7 separate regions of the Homo sapiens genome follow, and regions 1, 2, 3, 4, 5 and 7 are each reported to be linked to region 6. The links are microRNA targets in miRTarBase. Many come from high-throughput screens and were not tested one by one. Region 6 holds a microRNA gene; each other region holds the end of a gene's coding sequence. Distances are from middle to middle.
The links. The annotated mature microRNA hsa-miR-1296-5p reads UUAGGGCCCUGGCUCCAUCUCC and lies in region 6 at 2,631-2,652, opposite strand. An mRNA with a match to its seed (bases 2 to 7 or 8) in the 3' UTR can be bound and repressed. Matches are read on the target gene's strand: a 7mer-m8 pairs with bases 2 to 8, a 7mer-A1 pairs with bases 2 to 7 and ends in A, and an 8mer does both.

Region 1: the mRNA of CHD3 is a reported target of hsa-miR-1296-5p. The part of its 3' UTR that is shown has no 7-base or 8-base seed match.
Region 2: miRTarBase lists RRP1B as a target of hsa-miR-1296-5p. The part of its 3' UTR that is shown has no 7-base or 8-base seed match.
Region 3: the mRNA of SETDB1 is a reported target of hsa-miR-1296-5p. Seed matches in the 3' UTR shown: 8mer at 518-525.
Region 4: miRTarBase lists DHTKD1 as a target of hsa-miR-1296-5p. The part of its 3' UTR that is shown has no 7-base or 8-base seed match.
Region 5: miRTarBase lists LIFR as a target of hsa-miR-1296-5p. Seed matches in the 3' UTR shown: 7mer-A1 at 2,699-2,705.
Region 7: the mRNA of MPRIP is a reported target of hsa-miR-1296-5p. The part of its 3' UTR that is shown has no 7-base or 8-base seed match.

What each region holds. Positions count from the first base shown.
Region 1 is chr17:7,911,362-7,915,438 of GRCh38, forward strand. It overlaps CHD3 (chromodomain helicase DNA binding protein 3), which reads left to right. Exons shown (of 40, transcript NM_001005273.3): 40 at 103-1,394. The coding sequence ends at 224. It overlaps RNF227 (ring finger protein 227), which reads right to left. Exons shown (of 2, transcript NM_001358699.2): 2 at 1,978-4,077. Among named protein-coding and RNA genes, the nearest start is that of RNF227, 2.9 kb to the right of the region's middle. RefSeq lists an enhancer at 3,646-4,077.
Region 2 is chr21:43,692,819-43,696,895 of GRCh38, reverse strand. It overlaps RRP1B (ribosomal RNA processing 1B), which reads right to left. Exons shown (of 16, transcript NM_015056.3): 16 at 817-3,706. The coding sequence ends at 3,513. Among named protein-coding and RNA genes, the nearest start is that of PDXK, 24 kb to the left of the region's middle.
Region 3 is chr1:150,964,043-150,968,042 of GRCh38, forward strand. SETDB1 (SET domain bifurcated histone lysine methyltransferase 1) reads left to right here. Exons shown (of 22, transcript NM_001366418.1): 21 at 1-41; 22 at 205-695. The coding sequence ends at 322. It overlaps CERS2 (ceramide synthase 2), which reads right to left. Exons shown (of 11, transcript NM_022075.5): 5 at 3,778-3,835; 6 at 3,622-3,672; 7 at 3,350-3,442; 8 at 3,032-3,160; 9 at 2,714-2,820; 10 at 2,434-2,587; 11 at 1,144-2,246. The coding sequence ends at 2,106. Among named protein-coding and RNA genes, the nearest start is that of CERS2, 8.8 kb to the right of the region's middle. RefSeq lists enhancers at 739-883, 1,376-1,520 and cis regulatory regions at 811, 1,447.
Region 4 is chr10:12,120,027-12,124,088 of GRCh38, forward strand. DHTKD1 (dehydrogenase E1 and transketolase domain containing 1) reads left to right here. Exons shown (of 17, transcript NM_018706.7): 16 at 156-241; 17 at 761-3,195. The coding sequence ends at 862. Among named protein-coding and RNA genes, the nearest start is that of SEC61A2, 7.6 kb to the right of the region's middle. RefSeq lists enhancers at 1,613-1,752, 1,813-1,862, 2,603-2,692.
Region 5 is chr5:38,478,128-38,482,189 of GRCh38, forward strand. LIFR (LIF receptor subunit alpha) reads right to left here. Exons shown (of 20, transcript NM_001127671.2): 20 at 1-4,062. The coding sequence ends at 3,468. Among named protein-coding and RNA genes, the nearest start is that of EGFLAM-AS5, 12 kb to the left of the region's middle.
Region 6 is chr10:63,370,382-63,374,458 of GRCh38, forward strand. MIR1296 (microRNA 1296) reads right to left here and starts at 2,667; the gene lies at 2,576-2,667. All of the region lies in intron 2 of JMJD1C (jumonji domain containing 1C), which reads right to left.
Region 7 is chr17:17,184,156-17,188,232 of GRCh38, reverse strand. It overlaps MPRIP (myosin phosphatase Rho interacting protein), which reads right to left. Exons shown (of 24, transcript NM_001364716.4): 24 at 1-3,410. The coding sequence ends at 3,339. Among named protein-coding and RNA genes, the nearest start is that of PLD6, 20 kb to the left of the region's middle. RefSeq lists enhancers at 1,845-1,914, 1,945-2,144, 2,932-3,432.

The sequences.
Region 1 (4,077 bases), not on the chromosome of region 6:
AAGTGGCAGGAGGTGACCTAGAAGTGAGAATTCACCATTGTCATGAAGTGACGTTTGAGAGTGATCTGGAGATTGATCTTTCCTTACCCCTTTCCCAAACAGCCGCCACCAACGGCCCTCCAGTGCTTGTGAAGAAGGAGAAGGAAATGGTGGGGGCATTGGTGTCAGACGGGCTGGATCGGAAGGAGCCCCGAGCCGGGGAGGTGATCTGTATAGACGACTGACTGGATCCCAGGCCTGCCCTTCACCCAGGCCCCGTCCCCGAGGCCGACCCCCAGCTCAAGCGCTGGGGCCTGCTGCCAGCCCTCCACCTTCCCCACCCCTTGGGCCATCACTGGGCTAGGAACCCCTTTGCCCCTCTCTGCAGCTCCTCTCTTCAAGAAGGGCCCTTTGTCTTTCTCCACTCCCACACACCTTTCCCACCAAGCCTTGAAGACTGTGCTGGTGAGAAGAAGTCTGGGTGGGAGATGGCTGGCAGGGTCTTCCAAGTACCTTCCTCCCACACTGCCAAGTATACACAACTTCCCAGTAAATGGTTGTGGGGAGGAAAGAGGTGGAGCCTCCCCAGCCGTTTCCCTGCAGAATCAGCTCTGTCTCATGTGGAAGTGGAGAATCAGCCTTGCCTGGCCTTTAGGAACTTTTGTGGGGAAGAGAGCTTTGAAGAGAGGAGGGGGACTTTAGAGAGGGATGAAAATGAGCCCTGGGAGGGAGGAAGGGACGAGGAGGGGTGGCTGCATGTTACCGTCCCCTACCTCTCCCCACGTGGAGGGTGGAGCAGTTATGAGGGAGGAAGTCAACTGCTGTTCAGCCTCAGAATAAAGGTGCCGTTCACTGGCTCAGTTACCTCCTGTGTACCGGCATCTTGTGTTGGGAATGTTCCCCCCTCCCTAGGGACCAAGGACCACCCCTACAAAAAGAGTAATGGTTGGGTGATACTCCCTCAAGCCAAAGAGGAGCTCCCCAACCTGTTCTAGGGACCCAGGTAACCTAGAAGGGTGGGAGAGAATACAATGGGCCAGATGTGGTGGAAGCCCAGCTCTGGGGCTCAGGTTCCTGGAAGACTTCTACTACCCTCCCTCCTCAAGGCCTGGATACAGACTAAATTTGTATAAGTCAGGCAGGGGACCTAGTCAGGGTCTTGGGAGCTACCTTGTCGTTGGGACCAGAGCAAAATAGTGGAGGGCAGGCTAGGGAAATGTGGGCACATCCCCCCTCCCAGGAGGGGCCGGGGAGAGTGGCAGTTTGCATGGCGAACCCCCCACTTCCTCTTTGCTGCCCCTTCACTTTCTTGCTGCCCCTTTCCCAGTCTCTCTTCACACCCACTCCTGGTCTGTCCTGATCCCCTCTTCTGTATCAGGTTTATTGGTTGTACATATAAATTATACTTTCCTTTCTGTGTGCTCTGTTATTTTTTATGGGGGGGGGGAGTTTTTGGGGGGAGGGATAAGAAAGGTTGTTGCTTTCTGCCTTTTCTTTTTAAAAAAATCCTACAACTTTTTCCTTTTCCTCATTTTTATCTCTTAGATTATTCACTAAAACTGAGGTTCTTCCAGCCCCAGCTATGTCATGGCCTCTGTAGAGAAGGAGGGTGAGCAGCAGATACCTACGTAGCCTCAGGTTGACTTCAGAGAGAGTGGGACTTACTGGACAGAAATGTAGTGGGAGGAGCGCCTATCAAGATTCAAAACTGCCTTCCAGCCATCCTTTTGATCATCCTTTCCACCTTCAAGTTGCTTAGTTCCCCTAAGAGTCAGTAGAGGTCACTACAGCTCCACAGGTTCAGCTCCAGTATGAAGCAAAGGCACACTTTTTTTTTTTTTTTTTTTAAGGCGTTGAGGGTCAGATCTGTCTAGCTTACCAAAGATTTGAACTGCTAGGCACTTCCTTGATGTTTATTGTTCACTAAACAGAGCCTCTGAGAGATTGAGAGAGGCCAGACACTTAGTTCACAAGGCTATTATATTAAAAAATAAGAGATAAAGCCAACAAATATTTATTGAGTACATACTATACAGTAACACTGCTGTTGGCCCTGGAGATAAAACAGTCACAGGTCAGCCCTTGCTCCCATAGGGCTTACACTCCAGTGGGGACACCCACAAAGCATGAAAATAAAAGCAGTAAAAATAAAACAGGGCATTATGTTACAGAGGGGTGGGGGAAAAGGCTCTACTATGTTGAAGGCAGAAAAAGGCCTCCCAAAAGAGGGAGCATTTAAGCTGAGATGTAAGGACAGGAAAATGCCAAAATAGGGTTACAAAAATTGAGGTTTATACCCCCATAAGTGTATAATTATGATTTGTCAATCAAAAATATTTATATTTTAAAAAGATTGGAGGCCTCTAAAAAATTGAGGTTAATAATAAGTTCACATTTTTAACTAAGAGAAAAATGTTACATAGTAGGTTAGGATTTCTTTAGCAATAGAATGTTACTTTAGAACTTTGGGGCCGGGCGTGGTGGCTCACGCCTGTAATCCTAGCACTTTGGGAGGCCGAGGCAGGCGGATCATGAGGTCAGGAGATCGAGACCATCCTGGCTAACACGGTGAAACCCCATCTCTACTAAAAATACAAAAAAATTAGCCAGGCGTGGTGGTGGGTGCCTGTAGCCCCAGCTACTTGGGAGGCTGAGGCAGGAGAATGGCGTGAACCCAGGAGGCAGAGCTTGCAGTGAGCCGAGATCACGCCACTGCACTCCAGTCTGGGCAACAGAGCAAGACTCCATCTCAAAAAAAAAAAAAAAGAACTTTGGATAAAATAATCTATCAGTCATACCTATTATGCTTTAAATATTCTACCTACAGATGGTGATATCCTAAAGAGTGTAGGATCTAGACCAATGGTACTTAAATTTTCACATGCACACACATCACCTGGGATTGTTAAAATGCCAGAGTCTGGCCCGGCGCGGTGGCTCACTCCTATAATCCCAGCACTTTGGGAGGCCAAGGTGGGCGCCATCACCTGAGGTCAGGAGTTTTGAGACCAGCCTGACAAACATGGCGAAACCCCATCTCTACTAAAAATACAAAAATTAGCCAGGTGTGGTGGCAGGCGCCTGTAATCCCAGCTACTCCGGAGGATGAGGCAGGAGAATCGCTTGAACCTGGGAGGCGGAGGCTGCAGTGAGCCGAGATCACGCCACTGCACTCCAGCCTGGGCGACACAGTGAGACTCTGGCTCAAAACAAAAACAAAAAAACAAAAAACCCTGCCAGAGTCTGATTCAGGAAGTCTGGAGTGGGATCCTAGAGTGAGACTGTGCACTTCCGTTGACAGTACACCAACACTGCTGGTCCTTGACTATGACTTTATGGTCATAAGATACAGGATTCTAAAATAGAATACATGGCATATATACAACAGGTGATGTCCCATTATGGGACACAAATTTTAAAGACACTTAAAATTGTATAAGTATCTTTTCAGTAGCGCTAGTGTGTTCCCGTGACTGTAAAGATAACACAGATAATAGCAAAAGTTTGAAATATGATGCCTTTCAAATGGCTCTCCCTTCCTACTTTGATAGGCTCTAATTAGGTGCCTCACATAAATGCCCTTTGGAATTTCTGATACCTGCCCTAGCAGGTTGAAGGGAGATTCTGAAATGAAGCAAGGCTCCTAATCATAGTCACAGGCAGGGAGCCATCTCAATTTCTGGAACACAGAACTGGGAGTGGGGAGACAGCAGGCATACCAGCACCCTTACATGCCAGAGAAGTGAGATTAACATGACGCGAAAATTAGCCTCTTCTCTCCCGTTCCATCTTAAAAAAAAAAAAAATTCAAACCATTGACAAAGAATTGCTAAAATGGGACCTGTTGCTCCCACACACCAGAGCCACCCTGGACAAAAGCCAACGTCCCAGCTAAGAAAACAGTCTGTCTTCTTCCCACGGTAACGTAGGCTTTGTTTATATCATCCCTTGGCCACTCCATCCTGAAAATGTAAGACTGGCACAGTCAGTAGATGGGGGCGAGTTCGTCTAGGAGCCTCCCCAACTCAGCATCAACACCTCCCAGGGCGTTCCCTCCTGCCTTCGGCTCATCTCTCTCATCACATGCCAATCCTGGGA
Region 2 (4,077 bases), not on the chromosome of region 6:
TCCTCCTGCCTCAGGCCCCCAAGTAGCGGGGACTACAGATGCACGCCACCACGCCTGGCTAATTATTTGTTTTTTTTTTTTTTTTGTAGAGACACGGTTTTGCCATGTCGCCCAGGCTGGTCTCAAACTCCTGGACTCAAGCGACTTGCCTGCCTAGGCCTCCCAAAGGGCTGAGATTACTGGGGTGAGCCGCCGCGCCTGGCCCAGGGTTTGTTTTTGTTTGCTTGCTTGTTCAGTGTCTGTCTGTGGACTTGTCTGGGATCCAAAGAACAGGTGAAAAATTTGTTTCGGGGAACACGGGCCTATAAAGACTCCGCCATGCCTGTACTCTGCTTGCCCAACACTGACCACACCCACTGCCAACACCCAGAACAGGCTGTCTGCTGGGTACCAGCCCACCCGTGCCCGCCTCACCCTAGCTGCAGCCTCCCTGTGCCCGCCTCACCCAGCTGCAGCCTCCCTGTGCCCGCCTCACCCTAGCTGGAGTCAGTTTCTGGGCTGCAGTGGGAGATCTCCACCCGGGACACTGGCACTTCTCCGCTCATCGTCACAAGCGTAGGCCTGTGGAGTGATGTTTTAGACACGATAGTGAGCAAGGGCATTTGTGCGCAGTGAGGCCTGCTTCAAGCACTTGGAGACGATCCCCGGAGCAGCGCCCCCACCGGCTCTGGCAGCAGCAGAGAGATGAAGAGAATGGTACCCAGAGTCTTGTTTTCAAACCCGACCAACACCAATATCTTCCCAACTCTGCTGTGCTGGAACAGCTCCCAAAGAGGCCTATTTTTACCCATACTGAAAGTCAACATCAAACACAAATTGGAGGGCAAAGACTTTTTTTTTTAATTGGACTTGGCTTTGACGAGTACTGACAAACCCTGCAGACACTAGTACAATTTGATCGTAAACAAAGTCCTTGCCAGCATAGTCCAGCAAATTCTGATAAAACACATACAAAAGTTAAAAGACAGCTCGATTTCATCTTCCTCCCAACACCTGCAACTGTTTCCAGATTTTCTGTGTAGTCTTCTTTGTGCTTTCAGTTCAGTAAAAATTAGAAAGGATAACAAACTTGTAAAGTCAGATACCTAATTGTACAAAATTGACTAGACCATGGAGAAGGGGGAAGCATCATTTTACAAAATATTGTTAAGATCACCAGCATTAATTTAAATTATTTTCCTTTCTGGACTTCCAAGTCCACTTGGCAATTTTACTTAGGAAAATATCATGCGTAAATAGAAAACCAGTATTCTAAACACATTTTCTTTATGTGACATATTCTTGTGCGTCTATGTAATGAGAATTTTTAAAAAATTGTTTTCTTCCTGCTGTCAAAACTTAGGCATTAAAAATAAGGGACTGTAAACCTAGTTGACTTACCCATAAAAAGGAGTAAGTTCGGAGAATGAGAGAAGGACCAATAGAATCTAAGAAGCACCCTGTCACTCCCAGCCGGGACCTCTCAGGCATGGTTTTGACAGGAGGTGCATTTATAGGACATTCACTGGTTCCTCAGAATGGACAGATAATATAGAAATGCTAGGAAAAAACATTCCTGCAATAGTCTGCAGAACAAATGTGCCAGTTTTGCCTTAGATGTCCTAAGACATCTCAACAATGTTGGATTATATGGCCCGTTTGGCTATATGACCCATCTTTAAAGCTGAAATAAAAATTGTTAGAAAAATATTCTAGGAAGAATGAAACTTAAAAAAAAAAAAGAAAAGTTAAAACTATTTGCTCACCTTAATTGTTTCACTGTATCAGTTTTGGTTCTGAATGGGATGTGAGGATCCTATCTAATGCAGCCATTAAGCCACCACAGCTATGTTGTACGTAAGACTTCTCATTACAGTGACGATTAACAGCACAAGTTCATTACTTTTTTCATGGCTCATTATGACAAAACGATTACAGAGTAGGCGAAGAACAGAGTGCTTTCTCCTCACCAGGGCCTTCATCAGTGAGTCAACTGCTCTTGACGCCAGCAAGTCAGTCTGATGTTCGCAGGTGAAACCCCACCCTTGGCTCCATGAATGAATGAGACCGAGGTAAACCCAATGCAAGCTCTGCAACCCCAGGGGCCGAAGCCACGTTGTCCAAAGCCATAGCTGGGACCTTGGAGATCCTGGGGCCCTCTGCTGGGAGGCAGCAGTGGAGAAGGGGACTGGCCGCGTTTTGCTGAAAAACCGAGGCTCCTGTATGGGGGGCATAACGGGAAGGAGGCGGCTTTCACTTCCAGGCCTGAGCAGAGCGTGGCTGGCTGGGAGAGCTGCACGCCAGCCCGAACCGTGTGCCCGTGCCCTCTCACCGTGCAGACGGTAGCTGCGGAAGCCACGGAGAAGGCGAGCAGCCTTGGCGGCTCTCCTCAGGAGCCGCTCACTTTGAATCTGCACCTTCTCCAGCTCTCAGGCCCAGGTCAGACACTTCCTCAAACAGATCAATGATCCAGCAATCGCTGCTCAAAAGAAGGCCTTATTTCTGTTTCTCCAACGAAAGCCTGAGTGCCTTCCGCCCGTGTTTGTAATGAACTTACAGGAGAACGGTCTGAACTGTAAGTGCACGCTTCCGCATTTGAGAGGAAAGGTCGCTGAGCCGGAGCGCAGGCTCCAGATGCGCAGGCAGCCTCTAGGGAAGATGGGGAGCTGCCATGGAGCCGGTCAGGCAGTGACTCGGCTGGAACGTGGACGGAGAGAGAGAGAAACGGGAGCGCAAGGGCTTGGAGGAATGAGTGTGCTCCACGCAAGGACCTCAGCAGAAGGCTCAGCACGGGGCGGGGTCCTGGGTAAGAGCCGGGGGCTGCGCTGGGCTCCCGGGAAGACACTTTGGGCTTGCCGTAGAGGTAGGAAAACAGGGAGGGAAACCGGGTAGGGGGAGGAGAAGAAAAAGCCCCCAGAACGCAGAGCCTCTTCTTTCCCCACCCCTACCTGTCCACACCCCCAGCTGAGCACATGTAGAAAAACTATGGTATTGCTGATTCTGTGACAAGAATCTTCCCCATCGGTAACCTGCCAAACACCCACAGAACATGGCAATGAAGCCCTACATGCTTTTAAAAGAAAACAGACTGTTAAGACTAACAGAAACCAACTTAGTACGGCGAATACGGTAATGAGTACCAAATTCCGCAGAACTGAGAGCTCAACAGAAGTGCAGTTCCACCTTTCATTGTGCCAGCAGCACTGATTGATTTAAAGTTCAGATCAACGTGCTCTCCTCAGCTTCAGAGAGGGTCTCATTTCCTACACCAATGGGAATCACTGAGGTTACCCAAAAATGTAAAATCCTGGAGAGCTCAAACGCAAACATGGTTTGTAGCAAAAGATTCAACCAAGACGCCCGCAGCCACTACAGAGGGGCCAGGACGCAGCAGCCTGCGGGCACTCTCAGAACCTCGTGCACACAACTTATGGGAACTTACAAAATCATAAAAAAGGCCCCACATTCTTAAAGGTATAATTTATAGCGCATTCTGTACAAAAGCAGTCTTTTACAAGGGACTCTGCTGCTCCTCAGAAGAAATCCATAGCCCTGGGCCTTCTCCTTGGTGTGGTGGTCAGGGGCTTCTTGGCCACCAGGGGTGAGCTGGCAGGTGAGCTGGTGGGGGTCTTCAGCACCCCGTGGAGGGGCTTCTGTTCAGGGTCGAAGGCCACTCGAGAAGGGCCCGTGGGACTGACCAAGATACTCTTGTCTGTCTTCTTGAATTCTGTCCCAAATGAGAGCAAGGCCCCATATTAAGTGGGTCCGACAGCTGTCCCTTCAACACCTTAGACAGCGTCCTGCCTGGGTGCCGACCCCACCCACTTGCTAGGACGAAGCAGGGCCATCTCAAGGCCCTGCAGAGAGCAGGCCCAAGAGCCTTCTGAGGAAAGGAGGGCAGTGAGGCCACATCCCATGCCTCAACTCACCCTCCCAAGGGAGGGCCCAGGGCTGCCTGCACAGACTAAGGGGAGCTGCTGGTAGGGTGGCTCCTGGAAGGGTGAACATTGGGGGTGGGGGTGTTTTGGACAATGAGTGAACCAGGCATTTGTGTCTGGGACAAATCTGTGCTATGTGGAGCTGCAGGATTCGTACTGT
Region 3 (4,000 bases), not on the chromosome of region 6:
CATGATCTTCGCTTCCCCTGGGTGGCCTTCTTTGCCAGCAAGTAAGGAGTCAGGAAAGGGGATGACTGGGGAGGGGCAAGGACCACTGAAGTTCTAAGGGCCCCTCCTCCATTCATGATCCAACTCCACCTACATATTCAGTAACCCCAAGTGCCTGGGTTATCTGCTGTCTTTGCCACACACCATCCTTTTCTTCCTCTTCAGAAGAATCCGGGCTGGGACAGAACTTACTTGGGACTACAACTACGAGGTGGGCAGTGTGGAAGGCAAGGAGCTACTCTGTTGCTGTGGGGCCATTGAATGCAGAGGACGTCTTCTTTAGAGGACAGCCTTCTTCCCAACCCTTCTTGAACTGTCGTTTCCTCAGGAACTGGGTCTTCCTGATTGTTGAACCCTGACCCGAAGTCTCTGGGCTAGCTACTCCCCCCAGCTCCTAGTTGATAGAAATGGGGGTTCTGGACCAGATGATCCCTTCCAATGTGGTGCTAGCAGGCAGGATCCCTTCTCCACCTCCAAAGGCCCTAAAGGGTGGGGAGAGATCACCACTCTAACCTCGGCCTGACATCCCTCCCATCCCATATTTGTCCAAGTGTTCCTGCTTCTAACAGACTTTGTTCTTAGAATGGAGCCTGTGTATCTACTATCTCCAGTTTGTATTATTTCTTGAAAGTCTTTTAACAATATGATAAAACTAAGATTGTGGTTTTGTTTCTCTCTCTCAGCCCGATACTCCCAATTCTGGATCTTTCAGTGAGGTATTATCCCCATCCTCCCCTGTGGGCTGCTGTCATTCATCTTCTACCTTGTCTACCTTTGCTTCTTGCATGTGAATTTTTTTAGATGGAGTTCTCGCTCTGTCACCCAGGCTGGAGTGCAATGGTGCAATCTCGACTCACTGCAGCCTCCGCCTCCCGGGTTCAGGTGATTCTCCTGCCTCAGCCTCCTAAGTAGCTGAGATTACAGTCGCCCGCCACCACACCCAGCTAGATGTATTTTTAGTAGAGATGGGGTTTCGCCATGTTGGCCAGGCTGGTCTCAAACTCCTGACCTCTAGTGATCCACCCTCCTTGGCCCCTCAAAGTGCTCAAATTACATGCATGTGAAATTTAAAAAAGAAAATATTACATAACTGCAAGGAAGGCATAAGAAAGACTCTCTTCGTTTATTTAGTTGATCCCCCTTCTCAATTCCTAATAGTCTGACACTTATTGCCATGTTTTATTTAATATTTTTTATTTAATCTTTTAATTTTTAAAAAAAACCCATTAACAGTACATTTTGGTCTAAAATGGTCCCTCTGCTGAAATGCTAGGTGCTAGCCGTAATTCTGGCTTTAAAACCAAAACCCCAAATATTTAATAAATAAAAATTAGAATTAGTTGCCATTCTACTCCAAACCAGCTAGCCTAGCTGAAGAGAAGAGGGAAGGGGGAAGAGGCCAGAGAAAGGAGGAGGCAGTCAGATCTTAGACCTGTCGCTACAGGGACAGCTGAAAGAAGTAGCACTAAGAAAGATCATCCGAGCAGTCCCCAGTACAGCCCCCACTTTTTGGCAGAGGTAGGGTAAGGGTTATGTGCACCCTCCTCCTACCCTCAATTCATTTGTGTCATAGAGGGAGAAAGTTAAAAGCTCAGCTTTGGTTTCTGGCCCAAGTTAGGGAGCTTAGAAAGGTTAGCCTTGGTCCAGCTTTGGCAGAATGAGGCCCACAGATGGGACAATAAGGCACAACCCTGGCTCTGGAGGTCAGGGAGTCAAAGGCAAACAGCTGGGGCCAAATTCTCAGAATAAGGAATGTGAATTGTAACCCCTACCCACAGAGAGCTGAGGGAGGGCCTCAAAAGCAGTAGAAAGGATGACTTGGCGGGTAGGGAGGAAAATACGACCGTCCCCCTCTAACAGAATATAACCAACGTCCCCCTACCTGGGGATAGGCTGGTTAGAATTTGGTTTAAAGGCAACTGGGTGACAAGCAAGGAGGGAGGATGCAGAGAACTCTCCTCTCACTTTCTCCTTTTTCCCCAGAGCTTAAAGTGACCCTATAGCGCAGGGAGCGGGGTAGTTCCTTGGCTTTATGCATTAATCTGGGAGGCAGCTGGAGTAATGGTTCAGTCATTCTTACGATGGTTGTTATTGAGGATGGGGTGGCCATTGGCTAGGGGCCGGCTCTTTGCTCCTCCCCCAGCTGCAGCCTCCTCCCCCTCTGAGCTCTCTGTTTCTTCCCGGTCACTGCGTTCATCTTCTACCAGCTGTGGAAAAGGGACAAGAAGGGTTATTACATGAGATCCTCAAACCCCTAAGTACTGCTTCTCTCTGAGGGCTTGTTCCTGTTATACCCAGGGCTCCACACTAGTTTTTTAGAGAGTTACTGGCAAGATGGGAGTTCAGGAAGTTGTAGAGAGTAGTAAGGCCTACACAATGGGAACAGGGCTTCACCTTTCCAGTTATGAACTTGTGGGCCATGCGCAAAATGAGGTAGGCCCAGAAGATATGCAGCAGCTGTAGAACTCCCATCATGGAATTGAAGAAGTAATAGCCAAAGAAGGCAGGATAGAGCTCCAGTGGGTACACCAGGGTGCAATGCAGGATCCTGAGGATTCAAGGAGAGAGAGAACGTGGACAAGAGCAGGTCAGACACCGGGGAGATACAGGAGGGGAAGAAAGGCAAGGCTCCTGATTTCTTCAGAACAGGAGTGTAGCCTAGCTGCCTACTCACCAGAAGGGCAGGATGACCAGTCGGGTGATGATAAAAACAATGGCGAAGACGATGAAGATGTTGTTGCAGGTGTTCTTCCATCCCGCGTAGTTAAACATCTTGGCTGACTGCATAGAGAGCCCCCATCCATCATCATGGGCTCCTGACTCCCTCGAGTACATTCATATGTACACTCCAGTTAGGAGCACTGACTCTGTGCCCTCCTCCTTGGTCCCAGGAATGTCATCCTCCAAATTCCCACCCCGCACCTCCCTCCCAAAGAAAACCAAAGGGACAGAAGAACCTGCACCAGGGTCTCTAGATTTGAGGAAGCCTGACCTCCAGCAGGTAATCGGAAGAGTCATGCAGAGCCATGATTAGAGTCCCAGCTCGGATGTAATTGGCAAACCAGGAAAAGCTGATGAGAATGATGGTGGCCACATGGTGGATGATCTGTTCCTTGAAATCCTGCAGAGATGATGCAGGCCCCAGGGCCTTTTTTTATTCCCCAGCTCTCACTATGCCTTCTTACCCCTTGCCTTTGGTTCCCCATATACCAACAGCTCCATTCAGAGTACCCAGAAGTCAAAGGAGAGGGTGTTCATCCCAGGGCCTCATTTTGGCTCTGAGGCTTAATTGCACAACCCCTTCACCCACCTTTCGCTTGACATCAGAGGCAATGCTGAAGAGCAGGGACCAGTAGAAGGAAAGTTCAATCATGTAGTACCAATACTGGGAAGGGATAGTGCTCTGGGAGAGGAGAGAGAGGTAAGAGCAACCAGCCGCAAGGGTGTCCCCACTCCACAAACCCCCTAGCCCCTGAGGTTCTTCATTCCATCACTCTAATCCCTCTGCCATGGATTCCACAAACCGTCTCTTCACTAGGGTGTGTCTTAGTCCACCCCCACATGAGGAAGCAGAACTCATACCTGTATGGGATATCCCTCCCAAACTTTCTTCATGTCATAGAACCAGGGTTTCTGCAGAGAGATGGTGAGAAGTTAAAAGAGGAGGAACCCAAATTCCATGGCCTCACCTGACCTTGCCAGAGAACCTACTCCCACCTCCCAGTAATCCCCACTCACATCCACAATGACGGCCATGCCGGCAATGAAGGCAATCAGGTAAAATGTGAATCTCCAGCTGGCAGAGGAAGCAGAAATGGCTAGGTCAGAGGATAGCACAGTCCCCCAGCAGCCCCCAAATACCTGCAGATACCCTCACAAGATACCATTAATAACTGAATTCACCTCCTCACATCTCCCTGCGTATAGCCACCGCCTATCCCTCCCAGCAAGACACATCAGG
Region 4 (4,062 bases), 51 Mb from region 6:
TGTTGTATGGGTACTTGAAGTACAGTTTCTAGTGAATGTGAATCCCTTTCACACCATCGTAAAGTTGAAAACTCCATCGTAGGTGGGATCATAGTAAATTGGGGACCGTCTGCATGTGTCTACTTGAGGTGCTGAAAGAATTTCTTCTCTCATAGATCATATTTGGAGTCAGGAGGAACCTCAGAACATGGGTCCGTGGTCGTTTGTTTCTCCAAGGTTTGAAAAGCAGCTGGCCTGCAAGGTAATCACACGTTTTCTCTGGTAGTGTTTTGTGTTTTGTGTGCATGTTGTTTTTCTTTTCTTTCTTTCTTTCTTTTTTTTTTTTGAGACAGAGTCTCACTCTGTTGCCCAGGCTGGAGTGCAGTGGCGCAATCTCAGCTCACTGCAAGCTCCGCCCCCCGGGTTCACGCCATTCTCCTGCCTCAGCCTCCCAAGTAGCTGGGACTACAGGCGCCCGCCACCACACCCAGCTAAATTTTTTTTGTATTTTTAGTAGAGACGGGGTTTCACCATGTTAGCCAGGATAGTCTCAATCTCCTGACCTCGTGATCCGCCCACCTCGGCCTCCCAAAGCGCTGGGATTACAGGCATTGAGGCACGGAGCCCTGTCCCTCTAATCTCTTCTGCGTAACTCATTATTTGAAAGAGGTGATTTATGGTTAAACAAGCTAAGAGAAATACATGCACTGTCTTGTTGGAACTAAGCAGAGCTCTGATCTAGTCAAAATGTCATTTTATTTCTTCTCTGCTGCACTTATAGCTCCGTCTGGTGGGCCGGCCCCCTTTGCCAGTACCCGCTGTAGGAATTGGCACAGTTCACTTGCACCAGCATGAAGATATCCTCGCCAAGACCTTCGCTTGATGATGACTTTTGAAGAAACACTATTTCTCTTTAAGAAAATGGCCATTAAGGCCGGGTGGGGTGGCACATGCCTGTAATCCCAGCACTTTGGGAGGCCAAGGCTGGTGGATCACCTGAGGTCAGGAGTTCGAGACCAGCCTGGCCAACACGGTGAAACCCCGCCTCTACTAAAAATACAAAAAATAGCCGGGTGTGGTGGTGGGCACCTGTGATCCCAGCTTCCTGGGAGGCTGAGGCAAGAGAATCGCTTGAATCTGGGAGGCGGAGGTTGCAGTGAGCCAGGATCACACCATTGCTGTCCAGCCTGGGTGACAGAGCAAGACTGCGTTTCAAAAAAAAAAAAAAAAAAACCCATTAAAAGAGGCCTCCTTCCTCCACTCTCTCAACCCCTCTGTTGGGTAACATGAAAAGACTGTATTCCTCTAAGATGTTGGGATTGATATACGTGATTTAATCTGCAATAGGTGGAATAACCAGGGGAACTGGTTATGAATATGTGAATGCAACCAGCAAATTTATCCTTGAAGGTGTGATGGTAGAAATAGGAAAACAACAAAAGAAAAACAATAACAAAAAAAGAAAGTGTGATGGCTGGGTGCAGTGGCTCACGCCTGTAATCCCAGCACTTTGGGAGGCTTAGGCGGCTGGATCACCTGAGGTCAGGAGTTCAAGACCAGCCTGGTCAACGTGGTGAAACGCCGTTTCTACTAAAAATATGAAAATTAGTTGGGTGTGGTGGCATGCGCTTGTAGTCTCAGCTACTCCGGAGGCTGAGGCAGGAGAATTGCTTGAACCTGGAAGGCAGAGGTTGCAGTGAGCCGAAATGGCGCCACTGTACTCCAACCTGGGCGACAGAGCAAGACTCCATCTCATAAATTAAAAGGAAAGTATGATAGTGTTATGGATTTTAGCTCTGAGTGAGCTGGAAAACTAGGTCATTATCTAGATGATTTCAGACTTGACCCTAATTGACCATATATGACCAGGAAACACTTCTGAGTTTACAGCTCCGTGGAGATGACCTCAACACTGCCTCTTGATTTGTTTGATGCATGTCACTTTCATTAATTTTCCCCCTCCTTTTTGAAAGTCCTGTGGCAGTACTAATATTTTCATTTTATGTAATCTCTGGTGCTGCTTTCCAGTCACTGTATGAAGTGTCTCCCCAACACTAGCAAATCTAGGTCCTACTAAATACAAATCTCTGGGTGGATGATCTTCTAGTACTGTATTTTTAAATTAAGGAGTTTTAGTTATAATGAAATTGATTTGTAGTCTGTTTTGCCGTAAACTTGTTTTTCTTTAAATTGTTCTTACAGTGATATCTTACTATTTTTAACTGTCTGGGGTTTCTGATATGGGGATTTCAGCCCCTGGTTAATCAGTCTTGTCCCTACAAGTCCCTGATGCAGTATGTTTATTTGTGATGTTTAAAGAACATTTCTTGGCTGGGCGCTGCGGCTTGCGCCTGTAATCTCAGCACTTTGGGAGGCTGAGATGGGTGGATCACCTGAGGTTGGGAGTTCGAGACCAGCCTGACAAAACATAGTGAAACCCCGTCTCTACTAAAAATACAAAAATTAGCTGGGCGTGGTGGTGGGTGTCTGTAATCCCAGCTATTCGGGAGGCTGAGGCAGGAGAATCGCTTGAACCCAGGAGGTGGAGGTTGCAGTGAGCTGAGATCCTGCCACTGCACTCCAGTCTGGGTGACAGAGCAAGACTCCATCTCAAAAAATAAATAAATAGAAAGAGAGAGAGAGGAAAAAAAAAGAAAAGAACACTTCTTTATTTGAGGGACTTTCCCAACACCAGGTGCTTGGGGATTTCTTAGAGATCACCAACCGACTCCCTCACTGTGAAATTAAACCAAGTACTGGAAACGTAACTAAACAGCGAACCATGTAGCTTCACCTGACTCAGTGCTGGGGGCCTCTACCATCTACTGTGCTTGTGTCATGATGCTTTTTCTCTGAAGTGGTGTGGGAAGTACCAGGGGACTGGCAGAAGCCCAGGCCCTCTCTACTTTTACCAGCAACTGATCATGTCTTTCAGAATCCATGTACATATAGGCTGTTCTAGCCACAGTGGTAGATTTATGATTCACATCCGAAAGTGTGCCTTAGTTATCAATTTAACATTTCTCTAGTATTCATATCCCTTTTCTTACCATATACCTCAGTGTATCCTTCCTGTGTCAAGCCTTATAAATCATGTAATTTAGTGCCACTCATGTAAATCAGTAAAATCACAAAGGTCTATTTAATGAAAACGATTTACCAATGTTGTTTTTTTTTAACAAGAAAAAAAATAAAAGCACATTGTCATTTTTTTTCCTCAGGACTCCTGGACTTCTTGAATTAAAAGATTTCAAAAGTCTAAGCACAAAAATGAGATGGAAGATTAGATCTTTGTAAAAGGTTAGTTTAGGCTGGGCGTGGTAGCTCACGCCTGTAATCACAGCACTGTGGGAGGTCAAGATGGGTGCATCACCTGAGGTCAGGCATTCGAGACTAGCCTGGCCAACATGGCTAAACCCCGTCTCTTACTAAAAATATAAAAATTAGCAGGGCATGGTGGTGCATGCCTGTAATCCCAGCTACTTGGGAGGCTGAGGCAGGAGAATCACTTGATCTCGGGAGGCGGAGGTTGCAGTGAGCCGAGATTGCACCACTGTACTCCAGCCTGGGTGACAGAGCGGGACTCTGTCTCAAAAAATAAAAGGTTACTTTAAATCTCTCCGAATTTCTTTTGAGACAGAGTCTCACTTTGTCGCCCAGGCTGGAGTGGTGCGATCTCAGCTCACTGCAACCTCCACCTCCTGGGTTCAAAAGATTTTCCTGCCTCAGCCTCCCGAGTAGCTGGGACTACAGGTACGTGCCACAGCCAGTTTTTTGTATTTTTAGCAGAGATGGCGTTTCACCATGTTAGCTAGGATGGCCTTGATCTCCTGACCTCATGATCCGCCCACCTTGGCCTCCCAAAGTGCTGGGTTTACAGGCGTGAGCCACTGTGACTGGTGGATCTCTCCAAATTTCTAATTTTACACCTCACAGTCTGTTCATGGTTTCTTTTTATGTCTTCTCTAACTCGAGTCATGAAATGTGTCTTCTGTTGGCTTAACCTTTCTACTCTCAATCACTACTGCAACATGGATCAGCATTTTACATTCCCTTGCAGGGAGGGACCATTTGAGGAATTCC
Region 5 (4,062 bases), not on the chromosome of region 6:
AAATATAAAAAGGACTTGCAATGTTTGTTAAATATGGACGGCATGAAGACAATTAAGAAACTATAGGACTTATTTCCAACAAGAATACAATATGCATGAAGTTTTGAAAATGTGACTTTTTACCACAGTTTCTGAGAGTGTAATAGTACTAAATGTTCTAAATGTAATCTTTCAGATCCACGAGCGGTGAAAGTAATGCTGGTTTGGAAAATGAGGTTGATACTTCCTCTCTTAAGCTTCTCAGTGAATGGCTGCTTCTGTTTCTAAGCTGCAGGAACAAAGCACCTCTATCATATAAGCACATAAACACACAACTCAACTATCCAGATACTCAGGGCCACAATCTCAAATCTAGGGCTGTATAAATTCAACAAATTGATGACCTAGATTGCATACATGTGCTAATCTATGCAATATATGATTCACAAGGTTCATCTAATGTTAAAAGTCTAGCTAAGTCTTTAATAATTTAATATTAAATAAAATATTAATTATTTAAAATGGTCACTCATAAAAGAAATGTAGTCATAATAAGCCCCATAATGATCTCCATTCCTCGCAAGGGAAGCTTGATTTGAAACTGGCTTGTAAGTGAATTGACTTGTAAGAGAGGTAAAAATGTGTCTTACATGAATTACTATCCCACAGATATGATGGAACATAATGCTAGTTTGACAATTAGATTTTTCTAACCAATGACTGGGCTTTCACTGAGGAAAAGAGGGATTTCTCAATTATTTTCCCAGTTAGTAAGGGCTGGAGAGAACACATCTAGCCTCTGCTTCTAACTAGTCCTTAATTGTAGCTTCCAAGGGAGAAGCCACGAATCTAACTGGACAGAGCACAATCAGTATGAGACCACCTTGTAAATGCAGGCATGCAACCTTCATTGACAAACAGCGCACATTTACCAGTATCTCAGACAACTGAACATGTGACCAATCTCCTTCCAACTTCCCTCCCCTCTTCCCGTGTTGTTACTCTCCCTACACACACAGGTTGGGGGGAGTAGAGGTAATATCCTGGGATCTACACAAGGGTCTAGCTGTCTTGAATTCAATGAGGGAAAAGAAGGAAAACTGCTTTGGCCCCAGACATAAATCACATTCTTTTAAGCACACAGCAACTTATAAGGAGCTTGCCCAGACTTAATAGCGTTACTCTGCTTCTCATTAAGCTAGTGATCCTCGTGTAGGGGATCCAAAAGTAGGGGAAAGGTGAGTGATATTCTGCACTTTTTTCATACAGAAAAAAACAATGAAGTCTTGGATAGAACGAAAGGACTTAAGAGCCCCAGTGATATTCATCATTAACCAAACAAATGAGTCGTTATATAGGTTAGAAAGGGCCCTGGATCCAGATGGTCACAGTTGAAATGCATATATATTGACAGACAGAGATCAAACAATCTCTTCTGGCCTTTTCTCATTATCTCAGGTTAGCGCCGTTTAGAGCAATAAACTTTTACTGTAGCCACACTTATCCTTGTCCTGGAGAGATAAAGTACGGGATTGATACATTTCAACAGGGAACAAGGCAGGAGTTGAGGGCAAGCAGACAATGCTAACAGCAAGCTTTGGCAGGGAGAGAAGGCAGCCCCAGGTCTGATGTCTGGGGTGGAAGCTAAGGGAAGGAGCCAAAGAGGATACAAAGGAAGACAAGAGAACACTCTTTAGGGATGGCTCTGATTGGATATATTTTTCATTACTGAACATTTCTATGAACTATTATATAGTTTTAATATACTATGTATGTACAAAATGAATTGCATTTCATTCCAAATTTCCACAGATCATAAAGCTCAGAAATTTAGCTGAATCCTAGCAGTTAAAATCAGGATTCATACACAGAGAACCTAAATAGATTTTGTCACTTGTCACTCTGGCTTTTTTCCACAACATGGTTTTTAAAAAGATACAATATGAGCTTCAAAAAAAATTAATTGATCCATTATTTGCAAATACATTACAGAATCTCAGATGATAAAAAACAAACAAACAACCAAAAAAAACAAACAAAAAAGACATATCTTATTCGGACACTTAAAATTTTCAAGTACTTTTGCCTTAAATATGAAAAGGTAAAATACATAGGCAACCTGAGGGCAGGGAAAATACAAGATACACTTTTTAGTTTTTCCTTCTGCTTTTCCAAGAACCACAATCACTCCAGACATCGCTTATGAGAAACAAGGGTGGGCAGAGGATGCTGTGCTGAAGGCAATCAATTCTGCACAGCTCACCAAGCAATTGCTGCACCTGCAACACAGGTATGCCCATGGATTCAGATCAGTTTATGACAGTTACTAAGAAACAGCCCTTGGGTAACTGTTCCTGTAAGAAGCATTCTCTCTTTAGTTTTATATTTAAAAATGTGAGGACTGGATCAGATAATGTGGCATGATGAAAAGACTCATGAGTGGGAGGAACATCCACCAGAAGGTGTCAAAGATCACCACTGCCTGGGTAGCCAAGCTCAACGGCATGGTCTCCTCAGGAGGAACGAAATCCAATCAGAACTATATGGACAGCTAACGCTGCTAGATATTGCTTAGTAGTCATCTCACATAGTAAGTCACTGGAATTACATGCTTATGAATAATATTGAATTTGCTCATATAAAGCTGTCACTGTATCACAAAATAAAATGATTTTTAAAAAATGTGGGTCTCTAGTCTTAGAAGTGTAAATTTTAAATATTAGGGCAACCAACTGAAATAATGGAAGCAAGCATAAAAGCTAAAAAATAATGAAAAGGCTTGCAAAACCTATCACAGCAAGAAAACATGATTATGATTTGGGCTGGTCAGTGTCACACTTGTTTTCAAAGTTTGTACCCCTGAGACAACTGTTTGATAACCATTATACAGTAGGCACAGAAATAAGCATACTTTATCAAACAAAACACTAAATCGCTGTCACTACATTAAAAATTATATTAATTTTTGTGAATGCTGTGGATAGAGGAGAATAATCTTAGAAGTTTTAAAATCTGTGCTTGGTTTTCATCTAGAAAGGAGTAAACGTCAGGCAAATAAACTTCACCTGTTACTTGGACATTTTCTCCCTGGCCTGCAAATCCACTTACAATTCCACCAAGTATACACATGAGAAAACCACAAACAACAGAACAGAAAACAGTTGCGGCGGGATTTGTTTTACATGTACGTACAAGTAGGTATTAGCCTTGAAATGCTTCTTGAAGGTAGAGTACATGAGAATTCTTTGGCTTGATCACAAAGAGCTCCCAATCTTGAGTTTTGTGGATTGAGGATTCTGAGTCACTATACTTTGGCTTTTAGACTACATTAAAAGCACATGAACACTTTCAGTGTAACTTAACATGTAGTGAAGTTCACCTCCTAACAATACTTCACAGGATCCCTCCAAGAATGCCCAGTGCTGATGTAGCAACACTAGCAGTAAGAGCTTATTGAGATGGCTGACTGAAGTGACACGGTGACACTGTTAATCGTTTGGTTTGTTCTGAAAAAAGTTTGTAAAGGACCACCCTCCTCCATTAGATTTAGGAGAGTCTTCATCTTTAGGAGGAATCAAAAATTGTCGGGAATTAATGGAGCATGGACTTCCAAATGAGACAATCTCACTGTTGCTGTCTATGGATCTAGGAGAGTCTGGAGACACTAAATTCCATGTATTTACATTGGCCTGAGGTCTGTAACCCGCAGTTTTATCTAAGTCCTCTTCTGCAGCTATATCTTCCACAGTAGAATTAATGGGGAGGTGCATCTGTGGCTTATAGCCTGCCCCTCCTACAGGGTCATTTTCTTGTTCTTCTTCTGGTTTTGCTTGAGGCTGATACATCGACTGAACATCAATGTAAATAACCTGTGCAGTCCCTCCAGCTTCATCTGCGGCTGGGTTTGGTATTTCTTCCTCAATGATGGGTGGACAATAGGACACAACCACATGGTTTTCAGGCTCTGCATCAGAGCGATCTTCAGGACGCTCAGCTACTGGGGAAATTATTTCTGTATCTTCTATTTTAGGAAATGCTGATCGAGTTTCCAGAACCTCAACATTATTTGGGGTACAAGGATTC
Region 6 (4,077 bases):
TTTATTTATATACTGTCTTGCTTGATCTTCACTACTCTGTGTGGTAGATATTACTATTATGAACACAGTGAGACATACAGAGTATAAATGACATTAACAGTAAATGGAAGAATCAGGATTTGAACCAAGAAATATGCCACAAAGTCTATGTCCTTAACATATTATGCTACCTTCCTTGATAACTGCTATTTTCCCCCCAATTCTAACGTTCAAGCCATGCAAATCTAGAAGTAAACAAGAAATTCAGACAGACTTAAAACAAGCCTTAAATAATCTTCATTATATTTTACTTTGTTATGGTTTAAGCTGTCATTTTTATTAAGTGTTAATTCTTTGTATATTAAGGACAGTTTTTTAAATGCTGCAATAGCAAAACACAAATAATACCTATCAAAGTATATTAACAGAAACATAAAACAAGTTTACTAAAATAACTCATTTGAAGAAGACTACCTCCAAAATATAAAATACTGAATAACATCATTATATGAAATTTCCAATTTGCTAGGAAATAATAGTTGTTTTTTAGGGAAAAGACAATTTTGGTCAGGCAAAATTCTGCCATAATATAAAATAATGATCTCCATTACTTTATAATATATATATTTTCCGTTGAGACAGGGTCTTGCTCCATTGCCCAGGCTGGAGTGCAATGGCATAATCATAGCTCACCATAGCCTTGTACTCCTGGAGTCAAGCAATCCTCCCACCTCAACCTCCTGAGTAGCTGGGACTACAAGGCTTGCGCCACTACAATAGGCTAATTTTTTTTTTTTTTTGGTAGGGATGAGGGTATAGCTATGCTGCCCTGGCTGGTCTTGAACTCCTGGACTCAAGCAATTCTCCCGCCTCAACCTCCCAAAGTGCTGGGATTATAGGCATGAGCCACTGTCCCTGGTCTATAAGACTTTTTAAATACATAATTCTAGTGCTGATGTAATTAATTTTTTTTACTTAAATTTTCTCTACATTTTCCTAAAGTATGTACAATTATCACTTTTAAAGCTGCATAATATGCCAAAATATTAATTTAACAGCATTCACAAATTGTTGAACATCAAGGTTGTTCCATTTTTCTTTTCCTCTTTAATAAGACTGCAATAAACATCTTTCTTCTAATAACATTAAACCTTTCATTTTTTTAATCTGCAGCTCCCACCACAGTGTCTAATTCGTATGAGGTACGTGACAAACATTAGCTAAACTGAATACACTTTTTAAAAACTGTTTTTCAAGCATCGTTTCCTAAGACTAGAATTAATGAATCAAAGAGTATGAACTTCTTATGGTTCTTATAACATAATACTTTCCAAAAGAATAATGTCATTTTATAATCCACAAGATATGAGTGTGTGAACTCGTTCATTGCAATACATGCCAGTATTAGAGTTTATCATTTAAAAAGCTTAATATTTTATTATGTATAATTTGATCTCTTAAAGTGCTTTACCTTGTAGAGAAATAACAATCCTGAAGTTATATTGTCATTACTTCCATTTCATTATTTAACAAAGTACAAAAAGACATGCAACTGTTTATTCTAATTGTGGAAATTCAATTATAAATATGTAAAAACTCTTTAAATGAACATACTCCAAAGTTTATTTCTGACTTGGAAGGTGGCATATTTTCACATTTTAGTAAAATTTGCTTGAGGCCATAATCTAAACCAACTTTGATAACTGCTGGATATAAAGGTAATCTTGTCCCAAAGAGCAGTGAACTCTATTCTCCTTTGAGGGGGTTTCTTTTGGAACAGATAGTAAGTAAAAAGCACTCTAAGAGAATATTTTAAAATAAATAAATTGCTAAGAGTTTACGTGTTTATGATGTCATCACAATTCCTGGTTGAACCAGAATTGCCTATCTATGAAGGAAAAGCTACATTGAGAAAAAGTAGTCTGAGTTTCCTAAAACTCAATTCAGAAATTCAAGTAAATTATCAAAGATTTGAATATTTAAGTCAATTGTGAGGACTTCTGTTTCTTCCTTTAACATCTTTAAAATAACGCATTTCAGGTAATTTTACATTTTTCCCCTTGGTGATTTCAGGAATCAAATTTGTACCTGATGAGAATTGGCATTATAAGCTTTTTAGTATTTTTTATTATATATTGACATGTTTAAAATTGGTAACTCACAGTTTTACCACAATTGGGTGATTCTGCTTTCCTGTCCTTTGATATTATCATATGTTAATAGTCAGAAAACTTGTGATAACTCCCAGTAGGGTTCTTTTTCACTAGCTGGGTTGCAGCACATTCATCACTTTAAAATAAGAATTTACTTTCTGAGATGGGTAAAGCACTGTGCTAGACTCCAAGGAACCATACATAGATGACTAAGACATGACTCCTGTCCTCAAAGAACTTACAATCTATTAAGGGAAGACAGACATGCAAACAAATAGGTATAATACAAAGCAGAATGTGCTGATTGTTAAAACAGAGGTACAAAACAAAGTTCTATAGGAGCACAGGATGGTTATATAGGAGCACTGGTTGGGGTGATCTGGAAGGCTGGGCCAGCGGAAAAGTAGTAGAAAACTCTGCCCCTTAGAAAACACAGCAGTGTTACAGCCCACCTGGGTTAGGGTCGAAGCCCCACTCCCCACAGAAGGTTTTCCTAAAGGAGATGGAGCCAGGGCCCTAACCCAGTTAGGTAGGTGATTCGTTGATTTCAATTATGAATGCCAACACTTTCTTTCCCTGGTGCCGATAAATGTGCTTTCACAAGTATTTTACTTTATTAAAAAGTAAATAAAATTTAACAATCTATTAAGTAACTTACATGAAGACGCAAGTTACCTCAGCCTACAGCATTAGAATGGCCTCAAGTGGTACTCTGATTGTACAGGACCAAGCAAAAAAAGACACCACTTCAGCATCTTACATGTGGTGCTCCCATAAATGTTTTGCTACTGATATCCTAGAAAGAAAGAGGAACCAGACAATTCCAGAGAAGGAGCCTGGGTATTATACTATTCATATTTTGCTGAAGATGCAATTATGTTAAGTTTTAAAAAATATACTTTAAAATATGTTAATGAGACAACAGGATTTGTTTTTGTCTTGTCATGATCTCAAGAAACAGCAGGTACACTGCCAGTTTCCACTAATTTCTAGGTATAAGAGGTAGACAAGATAACGTAACTGATATGTAATATTAAACAAGTACCACACGAGGAGTGAAACAACTAGAAAGAAGATAATAAATACAAACATGTTTAAATACAAAAGAACATAAAGCAAGTATCATGTGCACAGAAATAGAAACATTAAATTTGTAGAAAATTAAAGACAAAGTATTAGTTTCTACTGTTTCATTCTATTGCCATCTCATATACAGATCCCTCAAATTTCTCAAATCTGTAGATATAGTATTTCATTACGCTGTAGGAATTTTAAAACGCTTAACTTTATAATTGCTGTTTATAGACATCCTTAAAGAAGCCAAATTTTAATGAACAAAAAAGGAAACAATAAAATCTCAGTCATATCAACTGTATATAAATGTTTGCAAAATGCTTATGAAACTTAAATTGACTATTTTCTTAATTATTACAAACAAGCATTCTCACTTCACTTGTTTATTAATTTTTACAATCTCCTAAAACAAAAGAAAAAAGGAAGGAAGGCAAGCACACATAACCTGACTACTGGAATTAATGACAATATCCCATTGCATAGACTTTAAAATAAACATACAATTCAAAAAGACTTACTATCAAACAACTGGCTAAGCAAACTATGAAATATGACAAAAAGGTTATAATATCTGTAATAATATAAAGAAAGCTCATAACAAATATAAAAAACTCAAAACCCTAATAAGTACTAAATAACAATTCACTAAAAATACAAGTTGCTCATAAACATGAAAAAAATTCACCCTATTAAAGGAATGCAAATTGAAACAACGAAATATTATTTTCAAATATCCAATTAGCAGAGAAAGAGTAACATTCAATGCTGCATCCCCTTAGGATGTAAAACTCCTCCTGTTTTGGCCAAATATTTGTGTTTTAAAACAAGATAAACTGCAAATAAATAATTAATGCTTACAAGGGTGTGATGA
Region 7 (4,077 bases), not on the chromosome of region 6:
CTTCCAGCTCAGAGGGCAGCGCACTGTCTCCACCCCTGCCCAATGATCCACTCAGACCCGGGAGGCTGTGGACAGCGCGTCCTCTGAAATGCTGGTCTCCACACCTGCCTGGGGCTGGGGCACCATGGGTGGATAAAGAAACTGACCAGCAGAAAGTGACTATTCTGCACGTGCAGGCGTGCACACAAGGTAATTACCCACAAGCCTGCAGAAACTCACACGAGCACAACTGCCTCGCTTTCCCATTCATATGTGTGGCACAGCTTACTGGCTGGTGCTAGCATACTACACATAAATACATTTATAGGAAAATAATTAAAATGCTGAAGTCTATCTATTTGAACTTCTTCCTCATCGGTAAAGCTGGGAAAGCTCACTACTGTGTAGCTGGTGCCAAGGAGCAGCCTGAGACCCCGCCTGCAGCTGTCCCTAAGACTTTCCTCTCCCCATACAGAAACCAGTTCTACTTCTTCACTGTTCTTCTTTCTTCCCTCTGGAATTCAGGGGTTAAATCCCTTCCAGGGTATTTGGATGCCTGCAGGAAGGAAACTGGAGAGAGGGCCCAGCCCTGTGCAGCACAAGGCTCCCTGCTCAGTGTGGCACCAGTTGGGCAGCCGTCAACATCTGTGCCAGTGTTGCCACCTGGGCAAGTCTCTGTTCCTGGGGCATGTCCAGGTGCAACATGAAGAACATCGTCATCCTTTCTCGCCTGGTTCACTCCATCGCAGGATGGAGCCCACCAGCAGGGAACCCAGACTTCCTTGACCCAGATGGTGGCTGTCCCTGTATGAGGGCTCTTCAGAAACGCCAGGACAGGCCCAGGGCATTTTCAGGAGCTCTTAGCAAAGCAGCCTCAGTCCGTTTCCTGGCAATACCCTACACTAAACCAGCCTCTGGGGAGAGACCTGTGGCAGGGAGGAATGCAGACGCCCTGCTGGCCTGTCTCTGACCCCTCACATGCTGCACTCATATTAATTTTCCAGGATTCCTGAAGTCCAGCCTCAAGGGATATGTGACAGAAAAAAGGGAATCAAATGCTCTTTTGTCCTATGGGCAAACTTGCTTTAATTTAAAGCACTGTGAGGGCTGAAGGCAGATGATCCTGTCTCCAAGCATGGACTCTGGCCAGAACCCCCTGGAGGGCAGAAGGCAGGGAGCTGTCTGCAGAAGGGCCAGTGGGGTCCACCCCCAGGGGCAGCAGGGATGGTCACGAAGGAAACCATGCCAGGAAGGGCAGGTGGTGGACCTCAGAGAACGGCACAAAATCGTAGCACCCAGACACGAGGCAAAAACTCCTATCTGGTCAGATCCTGATGCACTCCAGGTCCCTGTCTGTCCTGGAGCATTCGTGTGACCCAGCAGTGTCCTGGAGACAACAATGAGGCTGTGGGGGACAGCGGGGTCCCGAATGTTCCTTCTGTATATTCCCATTGACACAGAAAGGTCATAGTGCATTTCTCAAAGCACTGCCAATCTAAATGGTCAGGGGGGGTCTGATAAGTATATCTATATCTGATATGGGGCCTTGCTTTGTCACCCAGGCTGGAGTGCAGTGACACGATCATGACTGATTGCAGCCTCGACCTCCCGGGCTCAAGCAATCCTACTACCTCAGCCTCCTGAGTAGCTGGGACTACAGCTACGCAACTGTGCCACCTCAGAGAAGTAGATTTTTAAACAAACCCAATTTTCTCTTGCTGTTAACAACACTGAAGACTAGTAGCAGAGGAGTGAAAGTGTGGGTTAAGAGCCTTAAAAACTTGTGGAAAGGGCTCGATGCCAGTGGAGAGCACTTAGTTATTTCAGTGAGAAGAGAGCACCTAAACCTGGGTCTGAAAACACATGAAAACTCCAGGCCTTGCTCCCGGCCCTTCTGCACATTGGGGGCGGGGCCAGAGCTCCACTGATGGCCTTGCTCATGACTTCATCTAGAAACTGAGCAACAGGATTTCTAGATTTCAACGCCCAAAGCATCCACCCACCCACAGAGACCATCACACCAACACAAGCATGAATACAAAGTGAAAGCATGTTCTTGGCATGAAAACCATCTACTCACACCCCACCTTGCTCCTAAAGTAGCAGAACCTGTTCCACCAGCCAGGGGTTTATACTCCCTATCTTAATGGGATTAATGGTTTTCATGGGGCCATAATAGACTCCAATTTAAGAGATTTTCAAGAATTGCCATAGAATGTTTTGTGGTGGTTAAAAAGGTCTTCCTCAAACTGTTAGAAAAAGCAAAATTGTTAGTATAGGTTTACTTTAACCAGGCTCTTTTAAAGATAAATGCTGCAAGATAGGTTTTCAGAGCTCAGATTAATTAAATGAGAGTTAAGATCGGAGTCTCAATAAACACTAATGTGCTGTTCTCATCAGATTCTGACATCCTCTGTACTTTCTTCTTGACTTAACAGGGGTCTCCTCTCAACCTTTTCCAAAGCAATGTGACGGTTTCTTTTCCAAAAGGTAAAAAAAAAACCCAAACCCCCAAACCTTCCCCCATTTTGAATGATTCCTGGGGGGAATTCATTTGTTTTTTGCAATCAGAGTCTGAAACCTGGGCTGCAGGTCAACAATCTCGAGCAGTTATGAAAAGACCAGGGTTACTGGAGACCAAGAAAGGAACGAGCGGAGGAAGGAAGGAAGGAAGGAAGGAGAGGGGCCGGGGATTTTGTGCAAGATTTAATAAAAAACAAACAAAAATAGGAATGGTTGCTTTCAACATTTTCCAGGTTGTGAAAGGTTTGCCACGACTCTCAGGGGTGTGGTTCTAAGCTGCATCAGTGGAACAAATACAAAATGCTGTCCTCCTCCTGGGCTGGAAGGCAGTGCACTTTCTCCTCTTAACAGCCAGACTAGCGGGTGAGGAGTCAGTGCTGTGACCCAGGCCAAGCTGGAGTGTCCGCATAGCTTTTTCTCTGACCAGTGGGGATTCCATCTACCTTGAGGCGTGCTGGCTGGGCCCCGTTTCCACACCAGCACATGGTGAGACAGGGTAGCTTATCAACAGGCTGCTGGGCCTTAATACTGACAGTGAGTGTGGCGGGTCACAGCCAGGAAAGGACTAACACAGATGCCCTCCCAGCCCCCACTGCTGGCCTAATTTTAGAATACCACGGAAAAAAGCTTTGATGAAGACAACAGGAAGTCAACACAGCAGAGAGTGGTGTGGACAACCCAGAAGCCAGCCTCACGCATTCCATGCCCACAGTTAACGATGACAACAACAGCAATAATAATAATAATAATAAAACAAAGGTACAGGTGAAAAGCAGCGCTTGGGGTGTGCTGCTGCAAGCTGGGGAAGGCGCGTGCTCAACTTGGATGGGACACACCTAGTCTTTCTTCAAGTCCCTGGATTCAAAGAGCTTCAACCGTTCTTGCACCGTCAGGCCTTCCTTCAGACTCTGGGTAGAGACAGAGCAGGAGGAGAAAATAAACACACCGTTAGACCCCCTGCACTGGACCGGACCGGACCAGACCGGACCGCTGGTGGAGCCGGCATCAGTCAGAGAGCCGGGTGCAGGTGCGGTTAGTGGGCATGCCAGGAGGAGAGTCCCCGGGAAATGCTGTTATTGGAGGATGTTTTCCCCTTCACAAAATTACTTGGATGAAAAAGGAAAAAAAAATCAGAGAGACAAGACCATGTGTTTAAGCAGCTAAATTCTGAGCTTAGGGCTCTTTAGAGAAGCAGTGATCAAACGAATCCAGCCAGGGAAAACAGTGCAATGAGCAAGGAGACTGCCCATCCCCGTGTCTTGTCTTGTGAATGGATTTGTCCACATCCAGCTCCAGAGATTCTTCACCTGACAGCCTCAGCTGAGGAGGACCAGATGCTCCAGGGAATCCCCAGCAGGATGGGTGTCCCGGGACAGGGCCTCGCTCCTACAGTGCCTCCGCAGCACCTGCTGCCCTCAGACCCATTTCTGGCATTCCCTCATCAGAGGCCTGTGAGTGTTATGGGGATGTGGGAACACGCCAACGTATCTAGTAAGATTTTCAAAACATAAAACCAATACTCTGTTCACGTGGAATCTTGCTAAAGCTTAAATCTGTATGTCCAGAGATGAATGA